3 linked regions of the Homo sapiens genome follow. The protein of the gene in region 3 purifies or fractionates together with the protein of the main gene of each other region. This does not show direct contact. Each region holds a gene or a part of one and is shown on either strand. Other genes may lie near its edges.

Evidence for each region. The genes of interacting proteins can lie anywhere in the genome.
Region 1: the proteins of P2RY8 (region 3) and C19orf25 purify together in Homo sapiens (affinity purification with mass spectrometry; 3 studies listed by BioGRID and IntAct, with this or other methods). This does not show direct contact.
Region 2: the proteins of P2RY8 (region 3) and ACAD10 purify together in Homo sapiens (affinity purification with mass spectrometry; 3 studies listed by BioGRID and IntAct, with this or other methods). This does not show direct contact.

What each region holds. Positions count from the first base shown.
Region 1 is NC_000019.10:1,476,191-1,484,097, forward strand, and holds the start of C19orf25 (UPF0449 protein C19orf25), read right to left. Parts: upstream 3,026-7,907; 5' UTR 2,973-3,025; exon of another isoform or gene 2,950-2,972; intron 2,716-2,949; 5' UTR 2,714-2,715; coding exon 2,584-2,713; intron 1-2,583. Other genes in the region: PCSK4 (proprotein convertase subtilisin/kexin type 4), read right to left, coding at 5,569-6,017, 6,163-6,285, 6,706-6,830, 7,094-7,273, 7,460-7,577, 7,648-7,751, 7,837-7,907.
Region 2 is NC_000012.12:111,752,052-111,757,624, reverse strand, and holds the end of ACAD10 (acyl-CoA dehydrogenase family member 10), read right to left. Parts: intron 3,854-5,573; coding exon 3,710-3,853; intron 1,958-3,709; coding exon 1,880-1,957; intron 1,293-1,879; coding exon 1,152-1,292; 3' UTR 526-1,151; downstream 1-525.
Region 3 is NC_000023.11:1,534,166-1,541,307, reverse strand, and holds the start of P2RY8 (S-geranylgeranyl-glutathione receptor P2RY8), read left to right. Parts: upstream 1-4,122; 5' UTR 4,123-4,387; intron 4,388-7,142. UniProt on the Homo sapiens protein: G protein-coupled receptor for S-geranylgeranyl-glutathione (GGG), an endogenous metabolite present in lymphoid tissues.

The DNA of each region.
Region 1 (7,907 bases), on a different chromosome or scaffold from region 3:
GGGGCCCCTCGGCTCTGGCCTGCCCCTCGGCAGTGTGGTCTCCCACGGACGAAGGCTCCACGTGCCGCACGGGTCTGGGCTGATCAAATCACCTCTGTCATCACCTGCTTTAGCAACAGGGTGGGAAAGGCCGGGCAGTGCCTGGATGAAGGCACAGGAGGCCCCCTACCTTCTGTGAGCGCCCCCCGTCCCCCGCACAGCGTGCCTCAGTTTCGCCACACTCAACGGCCATGGACCTGAGCCCATGAAGCTCAAACCACGGCCCCAGCACCCTCAGGTGACCGAACTGCATGCTGGGAATAAAACCAACTCATGCACCTTGACCAGTACCGGCCCACAGAACCTTCCAGATGATGCGCACACCTCCCACCGATGCTGGTCCACACCAGCCACCAGCCATGTGTGGCTCCTGGGCACTTGAAATATGTCTAAAGGGAAAACACAACTCAATTTTTCTCTTTTTTTCTTTTTCAGAGACAGGGTCTCACTCTGTCACTCAGGCTGGAGACTCCAACTCCTGGGCGCAAGCAACCCTCCTGCCTCAGCCTCCTGAGTAGCTAAGACCACAGGTGCATGCCACCACACCCAGCTAGTTTGTGTATTTTTGGTAGATATAGGTTTTGCTATGCTGCCAAGGCTGGTCTTGAACTCCTGGCCTCAAGTCATCCTCCTGCCTCAGCCTCCCAAAGTCCTGGGATTACAGGCATGAGCCACTGCACCTGGCCCCAGAATTTTCTAATATTACTTTTTAAAAATGTTCCCTTAGAAATTCACAGTTTCTATCATTCCACATGGCTCATTTTCTTTTTTCTTTTTTTTTTTTGTTTGAGATAGAGTCTTGCTCTGTCACCCAGGCTGGAGTACAGTGGCACGATCTCAGCTCACTGCAACCTCCGCCTCCTGGGTTCAAGCAATTCTCCTGCCTCAGCCTCCCAAGTAGCAGGGATTACAGGCATGCGCCACCATGCCCAGCTAATGTTTTTGTATTCTCAGTAGAGACGGGGTTTCACCATGTTGGCCAGGGTGGCCTTGAACTCCTGACCTCAAATGATCCGCCCACCTCAGCCACCCAAAGTGCTGGGATTACAGGTGTGAGCCACCGCACCTGGCCGATTCATCTTCATTTGTTTCCCGCCAGCCCCAGAACAGCCTGGGGCAGACATTCTTGTTTCTTTTGTTCACTTGTCCATTAGCAGTGCTCTAAGCGCAGAGCCCAGCACACAGGAAGTGCTCAAGAAAAGGATTGTTGAATGAATGAATGAGCCTCATCCAGAACACAAAATTCACCCAACTGCACTGCTGAATCCTTTGGTCTCTGACTAGCTTCCACCTCGTAAATCAGGAGTGGACAAGCTTTCCTGCCAAAGGCTGGAGTCTCTGCTCCCACTACTCAACTCTGCCCTTCTGGTGTGAGAGCAGCCACTAACCGTATGTGAATCATTTGGCTGTGTGCCGTAAACCTTTACTTACCAACACTGAAATCTGAATTTCATACCTCTTTCAGGTGTCAGAAATGTTCTTTTTCACCCACCCCCATTTAAAAATGTGAAGTCCATTCATAGCTCCCAGACCTTAAAAAAACAGCCAGGGGCAGGGTTTGGGGGGCCCTAGCTTACCACCTCTGTTTTACTTTATTTATTTCTATTTATTAATTATTATTATAATTATTGAAACAGAGTCTCACTGTGGTCCAGGCTGGAGTGCAGTTGCGTGATCTCAGCTCACTGCAACCTCCGACTCCCAGGTTCAAGTGATTCTCCTGCCTCAGTCTCCTGAGTGGCTGGGATTACAGGCCCATGCCACCACACCCGGCTAATTTTTGTATTTTTAGTAGAGACAAGGTTCCACCATGTTGGCCAGGCTGGTGTCCAACCTCTGACCTCAAGTGATCCACCCACCTCGGCCTCCCAAAGTGCTGGGATTATAGGCGTGAGCCACCGCACCGGCCACTTATTTATTTTTGAGACACAGTCTGGCTGTGTTGCCTAGGCTGTATCCTCCCACTTTAGCCTCCAAGAAGCTGGGGCTACAAGTGTCCACCACCACACCCAGTAATTTTTTTTTTTTTTTGAGACAGTCTCGCACTGTCACCTGGGCTGGAGTGCAGTGGTGCGATCTCGGCTCACTGCAAACTCTGCATCCCGGGTTCAAGCGATTCTCCTGCCTCAGCCTCCCGAGTAGCTGAGATTACAGGCGCCTGCCACTATGCCCAGCTAACTCTGTTTTGTTTTTGTTTTTGTTTTTGTTTTGTTTTTTCATTTTTAGCAGAGACGGGGTTTCACCATGTTGGCCAGGCTGGTCTCGAACTCCTGGGCTCAAGCGATCCTCCCGCCTCATCCTCCGAAAGTGCTGGGCTTACAGGCCTGAACCACAGCGCCCGGCCTCCACCCCTGTCAGAAGAACCCTCTGAAAATCGGTCCCACTCTACGGAGGAGTAGAGGGAGACTCGGAGAGGATACGGACCGTGCCCATGTTGCGGGGGTTCCCAGGGCGTGGGGTCAGGAGTTAGGGGTGTGCTTCTCTCCCGTCCCCTTGCTGCCGGGGTCTCAGGTCCGCTTTTCCCCGGGACCGGGCTCCCCCTACCTTCCGGGGCCAGGATGGTGAACACTGGATCCTCTGCCGGCGCACCCCGCACATCCTCCAGGATCTGCTCCACCGTGGGGGGCGCTGGGCGGGTGGGCAGCAGCACGCGCTTCTTTGCCTTGGAGCCCATCTCTGAAGGCGGGGAAGGGGGCGCTGACCGGGGCGTCCACCTCTCCGCCCTTGCCCGGGCTGCTCCTCCCGCCCAGCGAACTCGTACGCACCCGTCGCGGTCCCGCTCCCGGGGAAGCCCGCCCTGTCCCGCCCCTCTGAGCTCGCCCCAGGCCCTGACCCTCCCTCCGCCCAAAAACACGGTGGCCAAGGCTTCAGGGTCTGGCTCAACCTCTGCCTCAGTTTCCCCGCGGTCACCCCAGTCGCCGGCCTCTTCCCACCTGGGCGCGGGACCCGAAAGCCCAGCGTCGACGACGCAGCCACTTCCGATTCCGGTCGGAGCACCGCCCCGTCCCCGAACACGTGACACACACTTCCGGCCTCCTCTCCCGCCGGCCCGCCGCTCATCGCGGGGCTCCGCCCCGTCTTAAAGGGATAGTGCCCTTGAGACTCGGATCTCAGCCTCTCAGGCGAACCCGAACCTGGACGCGCTACGATGAGAGCGAGTTCGAGTCCAGGCTCCACTGGCTGGGTAGAAAAGCATCCGAGGCTCGTCTTTCTGAAAAGGGGAACACGGCACTAGGGGACACGCCACCCATGTGGCTGACGGGAGCACAAAATTGCTGTCCACCTAAGGGAGCCTGGTGGTGCATGAGCACTCGGCGGCCGGAACACAGCGGGGGCGGGGCGGTCGCGGCGCCTCCACTTCCGGCCAAGGCGGGTCCTCCCACCTCGGGGACGGTGCTGGAGGTCACCTTTTCCTCTCCGCTGATGCCTGGGAAGGCAGAAAGAGCAGAGGGCCCTTTTCCTCTCTCAGGGGCTTTATTGAGATGCAGTTTACATACCATAAAGTTCTCCTGTTTATTTCGTTTTGTTTTGTTTTTTTAGAGACAGAGTCTCACTGTGTCGCCCAGGCCGGAGTGCAGTGGCGTGATCTCAGCTCACTGCAACCTCCGCCTCCCGAGTTCAAGCAATTCTCCTGCCTCAGCCTCCCGAGTAGCTGGGACTACAGGCGCCCGCCACCACGTCCGTCAAAATTTTTTTTTGTATTTTAGTAGAGATGGGGCTTCACTGTGTTGCCCAGGCTGGTGTCAAACTCCTGAGCTCAGGCAATCCGCCCGCCTCAGCCTCCCAAAGTGCTGGGATTACGGGCGTGAGCCACCGCGCCCGGCCAAATTCGCCTGTTTAAACTGTAAATTCAGCCTGGGCGCGGTGGCTCATGCCTGTAATCCCAGCACTTTGGGAGGCCGAGGCGGGCAGATCACTTGAGGCCAGTTTGAGACCAGCCTGGCCAACATGGTGAGACCCCGTCTCTACTAAAAATACAAAAATTAGGCTGGGTGTGTTGGCTCACGCCTGTAATCCCAGCGCTTTGGGAGGCCGAGGTGGGTGGATCACGAGGTCAGGAGATCAAGACCATCCTGGCTAACATGGTGAAACCCTGTCTCTACTAAAAATACAAAAAGAAAAACAAAATTAACCAGGCATGGTGGCGGTTGCCTGTAGTCCCAGCTACTCAGGAGGCTGGGGCAGGAGAATGGCATGAACCCGAGAGGCAGAGCTTGCAGTGAGCCGAGATCGTGCCACTGCACTCCAGCCTGGGCGACAGAGCAAGACTCTGTCTCAAAAAAAAAAATATTGTTGAGAGAGAAGGAAGGAAGGAAGGGACAGAGAGAGGGAAAAGGAAAGAAAGAGAAAGAAAGGAAAGAAGGAAGGAGAAGAAAAAGGAAGGAAGGAGAGAGAGAAAGAAAAAAAAGAAAAAGGAAATAAAGAGAAGAAAGTAAAGAAGAAAAGGGAGAAAAGAAAGGAAAGGAAGGAAAGAGAAGGAAGAACGGAAGAAAGGAAGGCGAGAGAGAAAGAAAAAGAAAAGAAAGAGGAAGAAAGAAAAAGGAAAGAGAAAGAAGGAAAGAAAGAAAGAAAAGGAAAGGAAGGAAGGGGCCAGGTGCGGTGGCTCAAGCCTGTAATCCCAGCACTTTGGGAGGCCGAGGTGGGCGAATCACGAGGTCAGGAGATCGAGACCATCCTGGCCAACATGGTGAAACCCATCTCTACTAAAAAAGGAAGGAAAGAGAAGGAAGAAAGGAAGGAAAGAAGGAAGGAAGTAAAGAAAAGGAAGGAAGGGAGGGAGGGAGGAAAGGGCCAGGCACAGTGGCTCACGCCTGTAATCCCAGCACTTTGGGAGGCCAAGGAGGGAAGATTGCTTGAGGCCAGGGTTCAAGGCTGCAGTGAGCTACAATCGCACCACTGTACTCTAGCCTAGTCAACGTAGGGAGACCCTGTCTCAAAACAAACAAGAAAAAAAACAAAGGAATCACCGCAGGAGAGGATTCTGGGCCATGGTGAGCCATGTTCTGGGGCTGGACATTACTGCTGACCCCCGGCCATTCCCTGCTGTTCCCACTGCCTGGGGTCCCTGGGCCTGGGCGGACTCTTTCTCCGTGGCCGGCTGCATTCTCCATGGACTGATGTCCGGGGACCCCAAGCAGAAACCACCTGAGCCCTGGGGCCTCGGGCCCACCCTGCTCCAGAGGAGGCCACAGACTGAGCACCTTCTAAGCAACCTTTATTTGCAAACTCTGAGGTTGGACGCGGTGCCCGAGGCGGACAGTGTCACGTTTCTCTCCCTCCACTTTCCCCTGGCTTTTGGGGTGCTCCAGCCTCTCCCCCCAGCCCACTCCCGCCCAAACCCAAAATGCAGAGGAGACTTCTCTCTCTCTCTCTCCCGCCAGGCTTCGGGGTTCCACGGGGCCCATCCCTGGCAGGCCAGGCGTCGGGTGCTGGTGCTCGCTCCTCTGGGGCCAGCCTGGGGAGGCAGCATGGCAGCAGTGCCTGTCAGGGACCCAGGCGGGGGCAAGGTCGCTTTCTGAGCTGACAACTTCAGGTTCCAGCTGGCAGCCAGACCTGGGGTTTGGTGGGGGTGGCCCTGGCACGGGAGAGCCAGGCGTATAGTGGGAGGTCCATGGACATGCCGCAGAGGACGGGGCCTCCGAGGGTCACGGCCAGGAGGCTCAGCACCATGGCCGAGGCTGGGCAGCGGTGGTGGGGACAGGCGGCAGCTCTAAGCCGGGGGCGGCTGTCGGGGGTGGTGGGTCCCATGCAGGAGCCCTGCTGCTGGTCCAGCGTGGAGGATGGGGGACAGGAGGTGCAGTCCCTCGGGGAGCCGCCGCGGCAGGTGTAGCAGGAGGCATGGCAGCTGGAGCAGACCCTCAGCGCGGGCGCCGCCGTGTGCCCAGGCCCAGCGGTCACCAGCCTTGTGTGGTTGAAGAACCGCGGGGGGCAGTAGGCCAGGCAGAGCTGTCCCAGGATGTAGGCGGGGCCGTCACACGCTGCTCGGGGACACGCACGCAAAGGCCCGTCAGCTTGCCACCCGCAGCCTGTTACTCGCCACCCGCCCGCCTGGGGCCACATGCACGCTGCCCACGGTGGCCGCCACCGCCTCCCAGCAGTGGGCCCTGCCCCGCCGGCACTCACCCTGGCACAGCCCCTCTGTGTCCCGCTGCACACACGCGCTGCTGGTCACCTGGGGGCCTGTAGGCCGCGCTGTCATGTCCTCGGCCGTCCCATAGAGCAGCAGCGTGTAGCGGTACAACGTCCCTGGACAGGGGTCGCGGGTGGGCACAGGAGGAAAAGGAGGCTCTCGGCAGCCTGGTCCTGGTAGTCCCCGGGCTCCCTCCCCTTCAGCTCCCACGCGGGGCCCTGGACTGGTTCACATCTCTCAGGGAATTGCACACCTACTGTGCGCCTGTCACTGGACACCGACATCTCCCGGGTGACTGCACACCTACTGTGCGCCTGTCACTGGGCACCTACATCTCCCGTGTTACCGCACACCTACTGTGTGCCTGTCATTGCACACCATCTCCCGGGTGACTGCACGCCTACTGTGTGCATGTTCTCTTGGAGAAGGCCACTGGGAACCCCTTTTGCAGTGCGGTCACCAAGGCTAGCTCCAGAGCCCCTGGGGGGAGGTTGGAGAGCCAAGCCCCGCCCACCACAGCCCCGCCCCGCCCTCACCCGTGTTGAAATAGTAGCCCTTGTTCTCTAGGCCCAGGGTCCACACGCCCTGTGGGTTCTCATCCCAGAAGTGGGTGGACATGAAGACCCAGTTGTTGTAGCCTTCAGTGCTGACGTCCAAGGGTCTGGGACAGAAGGGTGGGTGGGGGTGGGGGTGTCAAGAGGGATGGCTTTGTGAAGCCGGCAGAGCCCCATGAAGTGTCTGACCGCACGCGCTGGTGGCCGCGTGTCCTCTGGGTGTGGGTGAGGGTGTGACTCGGGGTCCCACCAACTAGGCTGCCGTGTGACTCCTATGGGCCTGGCCCCTCCCCGTGAGGACACTCCGGGTAGATGGCAGCGTTTACCGACAGGGCATGAGGCCGCCCCCTCTCCTCTGCGGGCCGCTCACCGTATGGCCACGAGTGTGGAGCGCGTGCCCATGGGGCTGGTGAGCGAGATCTCCAGGTCTCCGCGCCGGCTGTAGGACAGCGTCAGCTGCGCCTGCACGTGCTCCAGCGAGCGGATGGAGTTGTGGAGGCCGGCGCAGGCCGATACGTTTTCCCTGATGTAGATCAGCGGCAGGATGGGGCTGAGGGGGTCGAGGGGTGAGGACCCTCCTGCGGCCTGCTGGGGGGTGGGTGGGCGGCCAGCAGGCGAGGTCGGGGCTCAGAGGTCACGGGGTCCAGCCCTCGTTTTACAGATGGGTAAACTGAGGCCTCAGGCCTGTCCCCCACACCCCCAGCGGGGATAGCGGAGGGGCGCGCAGGGGTCTCACGTGGGGCGGCTCTGGACCCGGACGGCGCACTTCCTCTGCGGCTGGGTGGGCAGCCAGGTGCGGGCGGTGTCCACCAGCAGCCCGGCGTCCAGCAGCCCGTATCCGTAGTGATGGCTCACTGCGCGGAAGGGCAGCAGTCACTCGCCCCGTGGGCCCCGGGTCCCCGCCCCCGCCCGGCCCCGCCGCACCTTGGCGCCCCACGCCGTTGGTCCTCCAGTCCTCGGCCTGCAGGTGCGCCGGCTTGGACGCGCGGACCACCAGGTGCTGCATGTCTCTCCACGTCAGGAACGGGCTGCGGGGGGCGGGGGCGGGGGCGGGTGAGCCGCCGGGCCGCGCCTGGGGGCGAGGGCGGTGGACCGGGCCCCGCAGTCACCTACTTGGCCTCCAGCGCTAGGGCGATCATGCCGGCCGCCAGTGGGGCTGAGGCCGAGGTGCCCGTGTGCTGGTC
Region 2 (5,573 bases), on a different chromosome or scaffold from region 3:
TCACCTCTGCAAGGTGGCAGCCGGGGGGGATGGTTCCTGCCCGTCTGGTCTAACCTGAGACGAGTTTTGGCTACCCCACCACGAGTTATGAGACGAGCAGGCTGGGGCCTCACTGCCCCTGGCTCACCTCTGCATGTCGCTGGGTTTCTCAAGGAGCTCAGACTGCAAGTGAGTAAGCATTTCCACTCTCCTCAGAGAAGAGAGATTGTGCTCCAAAGTGTAATGGCGAATGGGCCACCACCTCCCCTTCGCCCAGATATTCTGACTATGGAGCAGGTGGAGGCTGCAGGGGCCTCACATGCCAGCTCCTGGGTAAAGTATGTATGAGCACAGAGCCCCGGGCTACATAGTGAGGGAAGGCAGCCAACTCGGGACTTATCGGACCCGTGGCCTCTGTGCTCCCAGCATGTATGGGGCTGAGATGATGGCCTGGACCTCGAGGAAACACAGGCAGGAGGAGGCATGAAGGCGCTGAAGGGAACCTCTCCACTCGATTCTCTTTGTATGACACAGAAAGTCCACAAAGCCTCCGAGATGTGTTTACTTATTCTTCTGTGTCCCCAAAACCCCTTTCCAAAATAACATTTAAATGATTGTTCTGTGCTGTGTGTTCAAATGGAGATAATCAGATGCCAGTGGCTTTACAATGTGGGTTGCATTCCATTTTCCCAGGCGCCCAGGTCCTGGGTCTCTAGGCCACCGCCCGCCGTGGCCGCCCCTCTGCTCACCAGGGAGGCCAGACAGGAACCCTGCAGCTGCCAGAGCAAGCACGTCCCACAGCCTTGGGAGGCCTCCCAAAATGTGTCCAGATTCCCACAGGCAGAGAGAGAGGGACTGAAAGGCTGAAGTGAAGTGACCGTGCCTGCCCAGCCTGGGACTGAGAGCCTGAAGACCAGCTTTCCAGACTCTGTCCCAGAACCCCCTTGGCCCTCAGCAAATCCCCTCCTCCTGGCCTGAAACAGACTCCAGGCTTCTTGCAGAGACGTCTTCTGTGGAGAACCAGAAAGATTGAGTCCACCCTGACTGTCCCGGGACAGAGCTGCTGAGCAGGGTGCAGGAGCCACAAACACCGGATCTTTCGAGGCACATCAGTGACAGATCTGGGCACAGCTGGACCAGCCAGGACATTGAGCCACTGCAGCCCCAAGGCTCTAAATGCGGTGCTTCAGCTCTAGCTTGGCCACCGTGGCCCGGTGCACCTCGTCAGGGCCGTCGGCAAAGCGCAGGGCTCGGGCCCAGGTGAAGAACTGAGCCAGTGGGTAGTCGCTGCTCAGGCCTGCTGCTCCAAAGGCCTGGCAGACACAGAGTGGAGGGAGGCGGCCCTGGGTCAGCCCTTGTCTCCGAGAGCCCCAGGAATGATAGCCTGCTCTTGATGGCCCATAACAACCATCTTCCCGGACTTCCCTGTGGCACCTATGTGATACAATCACTAATATTCCAGAGGGCTTCCATGGGGCCACACCTGCCATCCCACGGCCTCCAGACTCCCCAGGCCCACTCTGCAGGTGCCTTCTGCCCTGTGCTGGGGCCGGGGGTTAGGATCTAAGGAGGCGGCCCCCCTGCATGGGAAAGAGCCTGGGCTCTGGGCTTATGAAAACCCAAGTTCATGTGAATTTGAGGTCAGCTACTTGCAAGCTCAGTGACCTGGACAAGTCACTTCACTTTTCTGTGCCTGTTTCCTCACATTCAAAATGGGGGTACGATGGCACCTCCCACCTTGCTGGGTCATTCTGAAGAGGAAAAGGAAAGTTGCATGCATGGTGAGTGGGTGACACAGGGCATCTGCCAGGGTCTATGGGAGGCTGGGCGGCTGAAGATAGGAGAGTTTGGCATCTAGTATTGATGGTTCAAATAAGCCAACTGTCTGGTCTGTGCTCACCTGAATCGCACGATCAATCACTCGGGAGGCCATGGACGGGGCGACCATTTTAATCATGGCTATATCCAAGGCTGCAGCCTGTAAGGAGGAGGAGATGCGATCATAAAAGACCCGAGGGCAGCCTGGGTGGCAGAGTGAGGCCCCCCCGTCCCCCATCTCTACTAAAAATACAAAAACTAGCAGGGTGTGGTAGCATGTGCTTGTAGTCCCAGCTACTCAGGAGGCTGAGGTGAGAGGATTGTTTGAGTCTGGGAAGTTGGGGGCTGTGGTAAGCTGAGATTGCAACACTGCACTCAAGCCTGGACAACAGAGTGAGACCCCCTCTCAAAAACAAACAACAGGCCAGGCGCGGTGGTTCAGGCCTGTGATTCCAGCACTTTGGGAGGCCGAGGCGGGCAGATCACCTGAGGTCAGGAGTTTGAGACCAACCTGGCCAACATATAGTGAAACCCAGTCTCTACTAAAAAATACAAAAATTAGCTGGGCGTGATGGTGCACACCTGTAGTCCCAGCTACTTGGGAAACTGAGGCAAGAGAGCTGCTTGAACCCGGGAGGCGGAGGTTGCAGTGAGCCAAGATTGTGCCACTCTACTCCAGCCTGGGCCACCGAGTGAGACTCTGTCTCTCAAAAACAAAACGAAAAACTAAACCACAAAAAAGACCCGAAGGCAGAAAGCCTGGAAGAATGATCAGATTCCCAGCAAGAAGTCAAACACCACCGTCCAAAACAGAGGCCCCAAGGTCTCGCTGATGTGAGCTGGGTGAGGCTGCCCCTGCCTGGTGTACGGCTTGACAGCACCCAGGGATGAAGGGCGCCATGTTGGCAACTATTATCTTATGTCACAAGATGCGAAGCAAGTGCTGGCAGAATGTGGCTGTCTTCCCAGATGACGGGGAACACAGCCAGCACACACTGAAGGGATAAGGGGAGGGTCCTGTGCTTTGCTCAGGGTCACGGCCAGCTCTGCCTCCAAGCAGCAGTGGACCAAGGCCACTCAGGGCTCTGGGAAACCGAGCTACAGTGATCTGCCCTGGGGCAGGGTGTTCAAGGGAGACACCCAGCAGCCTCCACCATATCTAGCACGCCAGCGTCAAAGAACCAGGAACTGTGAGCATGAGCATGGGTTGGTCCCTGATGGTTGAGGGTCTTGGGTGGGGTTGGAGGCTGCCCCACAGAAAGCTGGACAAAGCAAGGTCAACATGGCATTGTGCTTGGTCATCACAGGCACTTAGAAAGAGCCTTAGTTAGCCTGGGCAACATGGTGAGAGCCGGTCTCTACAAAAAATAAAGAATTAGCTGGGCATGGAGGTTTGCGCCTGGAGTCCCAGCTACTTGGGAGGCTGAGGCTTCAGTGAGCCATGATGTACCACTGCATTCTAGCCTGGCTACAGAGCAAGGCCCTGTCTCAAAAAATAAATAAATAAAAGGTTAAAAAGAGCCTTAGTGAATGACTAATGTCACACTTGAAAATAAGCTTCTATTTTTGTTAATTCAATATTCAGATGAAGGCCAGCAGAGGGTCCCTTTTCCCTGCCTTACTCTTAGGTTGCCCAACACCTCCACCAATGGCCCTGGGAGTCCAGGGCCACCCAGGGGCCCTGTGGCCCCATCAGACCCACTGCCTTGGACTAAGCAGCTCACCAGGTCAGTAAAACACAAAGGCCAGTCCTCTCTTCTTGTGCCTTTCCAATTTTTGAAAAACTGCCCAAACAGCTCCAAGTAGAGGTGAAATAAAGTTTCTAATGTCAAGAAGCCAGGCTCTCATGCTTTGCTGAGTGAGGAGGAAGAATCTCTGCCTCTGGGAGGCCCCCTCGTGCCCCTGCCCCTACCTTGTTTCCTGCCAGGTCCATGAGGTGGGCAGCTCTCAGCACCAGCAGCCGTGCCTGCTCAATCTCCACGCGCGACTGCGCGATGTCCGCCAGCACTGTGCCCTGCTCCACCAGGGGCTTCCCAAAAGCCAAGCGGGACTTCACCTGTCGACACAGGAGATGTGCGGCTGAGGACATGCTGGGCTGGGGGTGGCCACGAGAGGCGGGGGCTGGTGGCCTGCAGAGCTGGGTGGAAGCAGACAGGACAGGGCAGGGGAGGAGAGTGAAACCAGGACTGTGCATCTTCTCAGCCAAGGTGCCTGTGTGCAGCCATGCGCCATGTCCAGGGAGTAGGTCTGACACACAACCTTCACGTGTGCCACAGCCAGCCACAGCCCACAGGGTGCCTGTAACAAATTGCTTCCAAGAACCCTTTATTCCAGCCATTGCACATCTGGGCAGGCCTGGCTACCAGACAGGAGCAGTTATAGATCTGAGCCAGCATCTGACCCAAGGCTACTCCTGGGAATGAGGGAGTGACTGCAGGCACTGCACACGGCGCAGGCGAAGGGTGCCCTCTGCTGACCGCAGCACCCCTTCCTGCCCTGCAGCTCCAATGGGAGCAAGGTCCCCTCAGCCCCGTCTCGCTCCCGGCCTTCCGCCGTGGGTGGCCTTATCTGCAAGGGGGATTTTAAATTCTGAAAGTCACAAGGCATCAGAAAAGGTTCTAAGTATTCCTTTTTTTTTCTTGTTTTATTTATTCTTTTTCCTTCTTTTTTTTATTATTTTTTTGGAGACGGGGTCTCACTTTGTTGCGCAGGCTGGAGTGCAGTGGCGTGATCTTGGCTCACTGCAACCTCCGCCTCCCGGGCTCAAGCAATCTTCCTACCTCAGCCACCTGAGTAGCTGGGACCACAGGCAAGAACCACCACATCTAGCTAACTTTCCAATTTTTTGTAGAGACAGGGTCTCACTACATTGCCCAGACTGGTCTCAAACTCTTAGACTCAGGCAATCCTCCTGCCTTGGTCTCCCCAAGTGTTGGGATTACAGGCATGAACCACCACACCCAGCCTAGTTTTTTTTTTTTTTTTTCACTAAAAACAATCTACACAAATAATTTATCTCATGGCAGAAAAACTACCTGTTTTCAGAACAAAAAAAGAGAAGACAGTAAGAGCACCTAGAATCCCACCATCTAGTCACCACTAGTTAATATTTGGTGGATATTCTCCTCTATCCTTCTATAGTTTTTTTATATATACTTATTTTTTCCAAAAACGGGAGCCACACTCTATATATGGTTTTGTAGCCTTTTTGTTTGTTTGAGACAGAGTTTCGCTTTTGTTGCCCAGGCTGGAGTGCAGTGGCGCGATCTCGGCTCACTGCAACCTCTGCCTCCCGGGGTTCAAGTGATTCTCCTGCTTCAGCCTCCCAAGTAGCTGAGATTACAGGTGCCTGCCACCACACCTGGCTAATTTTTGTATTTTTTTAATAGAGATGGGGTGTTTCATAATTTTGGCCTGACTGGTCTTGAACTCCTGACCTCAGGTGATCTGCCTGCCTTGGCCTCTCAAAGTGCTGGGATTACAGGCATGAACCACAGCACCCGGCCAGCCTGCTTAAAACAATAACAACAACAACAACAACAACAACAAAACATTATTTTGCATCAAAGCTAACAGCCTGTTTTTGTTTGTTTTTTTTTTTCCCAGACAGGGTGTTGCTCTGTTACCCAGGCTGCAGTGCAATGGCACACTCACAGGTCGCTGCAGCCTCGACCTCCCAGGCTCAGGAGATCCTCCCACCTCAGCCTCCTGAGTAGCTAGGACTATAAATGTGTGCCACCACACCTGGCTACTTTTTTTTTTTTTTTTTGAGACAG
Region 3 (7,142 bases):
TATTTTTACATTTTTGTGCATTTTGTTGGCGATTTCTGTTTCAAAAGCCCCAGAAGCTGCAAAGCTGCCTAGCATCCGTAAGCCCATGAAGACTGCAGCGCGTCTTCTGGAGAAAATAGGTGTGTTAGAGACGCTTTGCCCAGGCATGAATTATAATGCCGTTGGCTGTGAGTTCAATGTGACTGCGTCCACAATATCGACTCCATACGGCTTTTTAAACAGAAACACACGTAAAATAAGGTTATGTATGGATCAGCTGTGAAAAATTTGGGGACCAGAGGTACAAAAGCTACAGGCGTCTAAGTGTGGACTTTTTGCAGGACGGTTTGTATTTGTTAACTCAGCGTTTGCTCCGACTTTATGGACCACGTCTACCATGAAGAAGGAGGGACCACTGTAATCCTGAAGACAAACACTTCACAAACTGATGAATAGACTCTGCCTTTGATTTTCTTTCCTTTTTTTTTTTTTTTTTTTTTTTTTTTTTTGAGACAGAGTCTCACTCTGACGCCCAGGCTGGAGTGCAGTGGCATGATCTCGGCTCACTGCAATCTCTGCCTCCCGGGTTCAAGCAATTCTCCTGCCTCAGCGTTCCGAGTTGCTGAGACTACAGGCATATGCCACCACGCCTGGTTAATTTTTGTATTTTTGGTAGAGACTGCAACCTCCACTTCCCGGGTTCAAGCGATTCTCCTGCCTTAGCCTCTCTAGTAGCTGAGATTACAGGTGTCTGTGACCATACCCGGCTAATTTTTGTATTTTTAGTACAGACAGTATTTCACCATGTTGGCCAGGCTGGTCTTGAACTCCTGACCTCAGGTGATCCGCCCACCTCGGCCTCCCAAAGTCCTGGGATTATAGGCATGAGCCACTGTGCCCAGCCTTTACTTTATTTTAGATTCCGGGGGTACATGTGCAGGTTTGTTACAAGGGTATCTTGTGTGATGCTGAGATTTTGGGTATGAATGATCTCATGACCTAGCTACTGAGTTTAGCACCCAGTAGGTAGTTTTTCAGCCCTTCATCTCCCTCCCTCCCCACTCTAGGAGTCTGTAACGCCTCTTCTTCCCATCTTTTTTTTTTTTTTTGAGACAGAATTTTCACTCCTGTTGCCCAGGCTGGAGTGCAGTGGTGCGATCTTGGCTCACTGCAACCTCCACCTCCAGGGTTCAAGCGATTCTCCTGCCTCAGCCTCCTGAGTAGCTGGGATTACAGGCATGTGCCACCATGCTCGAGTAATTTTTGTACTTTTAGTAGCGACTGCAACCTCCTCTTCCCGGGTTCAAGCGATTCTCCTGCCTCAGCCTCCCGAGTAGCTGAGATTACAGGTGTCTGTGACCATGCCCAGCTAATTTTTGTGTTTTTAGTACAGACAGGGTTTCATCATGTTGGTCAGGCTGGTCTCAAACTCCTCACCTCAGGTGATCCACCCACCTCGGCCTCCCACAGTGCTGGGATTACAGGCATGAGCCACCACGCCTGGCCTGTTGTTCCCATCTTTATGTCCATGAGTACCCTGTGTTTACCTCCTGCTTATAAGTGAGAACATGCGGTATTTGGCTTTCTGTCTCTGTATTAATTTACTTTGGAGAATGGCCTCCGGCTGGATCCAAGTTGCTGCAAAGGACATGATTTCATTCTTTTTCACAGCTTTGTACTATTCCATGGTGTCTATGTACCCCATTTTATTATTTTTTATTTTTATTTGTTTATTTATTTATTTTTTGAGACAGAGTTTCGCTCTTGTTGCCCAGGCTGGGGTGCAGCGGCATGATCTCGGCTCACTGCAACCTCCGCCTCCCGGGTTCAAGCGATCCTCCTGACTCAGTCTCCCAAATAGCTGGGATTACAGGTGTCTTTCACCACGCCAAGATTATTTTTTGTATTTTTAGTAGAGAGGGGGTTTCTCCATGTTGACCAGTCTGGTCTCGAACTCCTGACCTCAGGTGATCCACCTGCCTCGGCCTCCCAGACTGCTGGGATTACAGGCGTGAGCCTCTGCACCCGCCGGTCACGTACCCTATTTTCTTTATCCGATGCATGGTGGATAAGCACCTGGGTTGACTCTGTGTCTTTGCTATGGTGAATAGTGCTGTGATGAACTGTGAGTGTGGATGTCCTTTTACAGAACGATTTCCTTAATAAGGTGTTTTCAAACAGAAACACACATAATATAAAGCTACTTATTGATCTGTTGAAGAAAACACTGTGACCAGGGGCCTGAAGGATTCTTTTGATTTTTTTTTTTTTTTTTTTTGAGACAGGGTCTCTCTCTGTTGCCCAGGCTGGAGTGCAGTGGCATGATCTCGGCTCTCTGCAACCTCTGCCTCTCTGGTTCAAGTCATTCTCTTGCCTCAGCCTCCCCAGTAGCTGGAACTACAGGCCCCCACCATCACACCCAGCTAATTTTTGTATTTTTAGTAGAGACAGGGTTTCGCCATGTTGGCCAGGCTAGTCTTGAACTGCTGATCTCAAGTGATCCACCCGCCTTGGCCTCCCAAAGTGCTGGGATTATAGGCGTGAGCCACCAGGCCTGGCCTTTTTTTTTTTTTTTTTTTGAGACAGTCTCACTCTGTCACCCAGGCTGGGGTACAATGGCCCAATCTGGGCTCACTGCCACCTCCACCTCCTAGGTTCACATGCTTCTCCTGCCTCAGCCTCCCCAGTAGCTGGGATTACAGGCGTCCACCACCACGCCTAGCTAATTTTTGTATTTTTAAGGGACAGGTTTCGCTATGTTGGCCAGGCTGGTCTCGAACTCCTGACCTCAAGTGATCCGGCCCACCTTGGCACCTCAAAGTGCTGGGAATACAGGTGTGAGCCACCAGGCCTCGACTTTTTTTTTTTTTTTGAGACAGTCTCACTCTGTTACCCAGGCTGGAGTGCAATGGCCTGATCTTGGCTCACTGCAACCTCCAGCTCCCGGGTTCAAGTGATTCTCCTGCCTCAGCCTCCCCAGTAGCTAGGATTACAGGCATCCACCACCATGCCCAGCTAATTTTTGTATTTTTAGTAGGGACGGGATTTCGCTATGTTGGCCAGGCTGGTCTCGAACTCCTGACCTCAAGTGATCCACCCGCCTTGGCCTCCCAAAGTGCTGGGATTATAGGCGTGAGCCAGCAGGCCTGGTCTTTTTGTTTGTTTGTTTGTTTTTTGGGACAGTCTCACTGTCACCCAGACTGGAGTGCAATGGCCTGATCTTGGCTCACTGCAACCTCCACCTCCCAGGTTCAAGTGATTCTCCTGCCTCAGCCTCCCCAGTAGCTGGGACTACAGGTGTCCACCACCACACCCAGCTAATTTTTGTGTTTTTAGTAGGGACGGGATTTCGCCATGTTGGCCAGGCTGGTCTCAAACTCCTGACCTGAAGTGATCCACCCGCCTTGGCCTCCCAAAGTGCTGGGACTACAGGCGTGAGCCACCACACCCAGCCTGGCTTGAGGGATTGATTCTACCATGTCTTTTCCCTGAGCAGTGGTTCAATATTCATTCATTCTTTCTCAGTGACAGATCCTTCCCTCTCAACCTCCTCCCACGAGTGACAAGAACCAACCGTTGCTCCTCACAAGCAAGGATACCAGAGCTCGGAAACCTGGTTCTCATTCCTGAAACTGGCCGATCCCCCATGGGATGTTGAGGATATGAGCCTGCAGCGCCCGTGACCAACTGTGAGAGCCGGAATGATCAGTGCCCAAGGTCTGTTCGCTTGTCACAGTCTGGCTGTGTACCAAGAGATGTCGCAATGAGCACAGCTTTAGAGTCTAAAAGGAAACGTGTTCTGTTCTTTCTTTGTTTTGTTTTGTTATTTCAGAAGAAACAGGAATCGGTTCTGGAGCATGCCACGGCTCTTCACTGCTGGTTACAAAATTTAGAAAAATCATTCTCCCTCTTTTCCTCACTCTCAGGGTTCTCTTAAGAGTAGGGCCCCCTGCGAGCCAGTGATAGGGAGGTGGGCGGTTAACGGTGCTGCCCAGAGACACAGCGACGTTACTCCAGTGGGCTCAGCCCTGCACATGAGTGTTCAGACAGTTACAGAGGAAATGTCACAACACACTTCCTTTCCACCTAAGCCTGAGTCGCAACCGTGGTGGTGCGCTGGGAGGTGGAGTTTGCAGAATTTGCATTCGGAGACAGTCGTGCCAGCCGGTGGGCCACCCAGCGAAGCGGCCGCCTTTGCAAGGTTGCTGGACAGATGGAACTGGAAGGGCAGCCGTCTGCCGCCCACGAACACCTTCTCAAGCACTTTGAGTGACCACGGCTTGCAAGCTGGTGGCTGGCCCCCCGAGTCCCGGGCTCTGAGGCACGGCCGTCGACTTAAGCGTTGCATCCTGTTACCTGGAGACCCTCTGAGCTCTCACCTGCTACTTCTGCCGCTGCTTCTGCACAGGTGAGCCGCCGAGCTGGACTTTTATGCTTGTCCTGCACTGTCAAGGGAGAAGACAGGGTCGCTGGGAGGGTCCGTGTACGGTGAGAACATGGGGGAAGACGGTGCAAACTCCATGAGGCGTGTTCTCCTCACGCTAGAGCAGACCAGGAGTGCAAATTTCCTGGGAGGAAGACTTTGCACAGCCGCTTCGTCACTTAGGGGAGAAATGCTCAAATTTTCCAGGGCTGCAAGCCACCCTTCCTTTAATAACTCATTCCATGAACTTTCAGAGGCCGAGGTGGGCGGATCACGAGGTCAGGAGTTCGAGACCATCCTGGCTAACACGGTGAAACCCCGTCTCTACTAAAAATACAAAAATTAGCCAGGCGTGGTGGCAGGTGCCTGTAATCCCAGCACTTTGGGGGACCGAGGTGGGTGGATCATCTGAGGTCAGGAGTTCGAGACCATCCTGGCTAACACGGTGAAACCCCGTCTCTACTAAAAATACAAAAATTAGCTGGGCTTGGTGGTGGGCGCCTGCGGTCCCAGCTACTCGGGAGGCTGAGGCAGGAGAATGGCATGATCCCTGGAGGTGGAGCTTGCAGTGAGCAGAGATCACGCCACTGCACTCCAGCCTGGGCGACAGAGCGAGACTCTGTTTAGAAAAAAAAAAACAAAAAAAAACTCATTCCATGAAATGCGCCTCTCTTGAGGTTAACCTTAGAGAGGGTAAGCAGCTGCGGCTGCTGCACGTAACCCATTTACGCCTGAGATTGCAGTTTTTTCAATGTTTGCAATGAGACCTTGGCGATGACCTTGAGCCGTGGGATATAAATAACTCCCAAATGCTTAGCGTTCCAATAATGGAAGAGTAAGCATAAATTAAACGGGTTTTAAAGCCCTATGGGTGCCTGGATGAGCACGGTGGCCCCTCGTCACCCCCTCGGTGCCAGGGAGACCCCAGACCCGGGTCTCACGGCCACCTCAGACCTCATTTGTACAGGTCCGCTTAGAAACCCCAATTCCTTGGGTCTTGTCAGATCTGTCCCCTAAAAAGCTGAGAAAAGGCAGAGGGAGCTGCTCTGGGAATTTCAGGCCACACACAACAAGGCCTGCTGTGGCGCTTTAGGTCCCATTTCTATAAAGGGGAACCATGGTCACGTGGCTCTGTTCCCAAAAAGAAAAGGGTTTGTGTGTGTGTGTGTGTGTGTGTCTGTGTGTGTGTCTGTGTGTGTGTGTGTGTGTGTGGTTGTTTCTTCCCATGTTGTTATCTTTACGTAACGTGGATGAGAAGTCTGAAGCGCGAGAGCCCTAAGTGAAAACCGCTGAGGAGCTGAAGCCCGTGGGGAAGCAGGTGCACCTGACTGCGCCGTTCAATCTCTCCTTCCCGTTCCGTTCCTCCTTGCATAGCCCACTTGACTTTGGCAAGCAGCGCCAGATAGTAGCATATTTTGTGTTTACGGCGGTGACAGACGCCTGTAATCCCAGCACTTTGGGAGGCCGAGGTGGGTGGATCACTTGAGGTCAGGGGTTTGAGACCAGCCTGGCCAACATAGTGAAACCCCGTCTCTACTAAAAATACCAAAATTAGCCGAGTGTGGCGGCGGGCACCTGTCATCCCAGTTACTCGGCACGCTAAGGCAGCAGAATCACTTGAACCCAGGAGGCGGAGGTTGCGGTGAGCCAAGATCGCGCCACTGCACTCCAGCCTGGGTGACAGAGTGAGACTCTGTCTCAAAAAAAAAAAAAAAAAAAAAGGAATTATCCCACATTGGAAAAGCAGTACTTTCATTTAGGCACTGCCAGACAGGTGCCAGCGTCCTACGTGCACCAGGATGCTGCCCCTTTTCCCAAATATTGGCCTCCCCCACCCCACAAGAGGACAATTAGGTCAGAGGCTGAGAGAGGCGTGCATGGGACGTACGGGACGGTGGGCAACCCTGTGTTTGTAAAAGCACATGCTTTTCAGATGCCTTCTGCCAGGTCCCCGCCTGGCTGCACCATTCAGACTGACCAACCTTGGGGTGGGTGGGAGAGGTGAGGTCCCCTTGGAGAACCACAGAGACGCTCCCTCCCTCCAACCCTACCCACACTGCAGTTCTGAGTTTGTCCCTTAAAGTTCCAGGGAAGAAGCGATGGCTTAGGATTAACAACAGCAGGGTAGCTGTTGCCAGTGGTGCATACGTACAGCCCTGCGCTTGGAGAGGCCCTTTCCCCGGGCAGATGGCCCCCTCTCGTCTGAGTCTCTCTCCTGCGCCCTCTCCTTCAGCCCTGCCTCTCCATCAGGACCTCCTCATTGGCTGTGTCTGGGCATGGTCCCCAACCTCCCTCCCCCAGCCCCTCTTCTGTCCCTAGAGGCAGTGGGGTGGGCGGGGCAGGGTCCAGGGATCCCAGTGTCCACCTGGAACCCTGCTCTTCCTCTCTCGGGTTAGGAGATTCTGCACGGCCCCTGGGAGACACACAACACCCTGCCTACACCTGTTAAGGTACGGAAAGGGCGTGGGCGTGATGGGTGCCCCCAGGATCACCCCCAAGGACCAGACTGAGCTCAGGGGACTGCAGGGAGTGTTCTGCGGTTCACAATGTCGCTCCCTAGTGATGCAGTATCTGTGTTCACTTAGGATAAAGCAACAGATACACCTATCTGTGTGTGTGTATATATATATGTATTACATATATAATTATATAAATAATTATATATAAATAATATATAATATATAAATAGTAAGTATATAAATATATATGTAAATATATATAAATATATAATATATGTAAA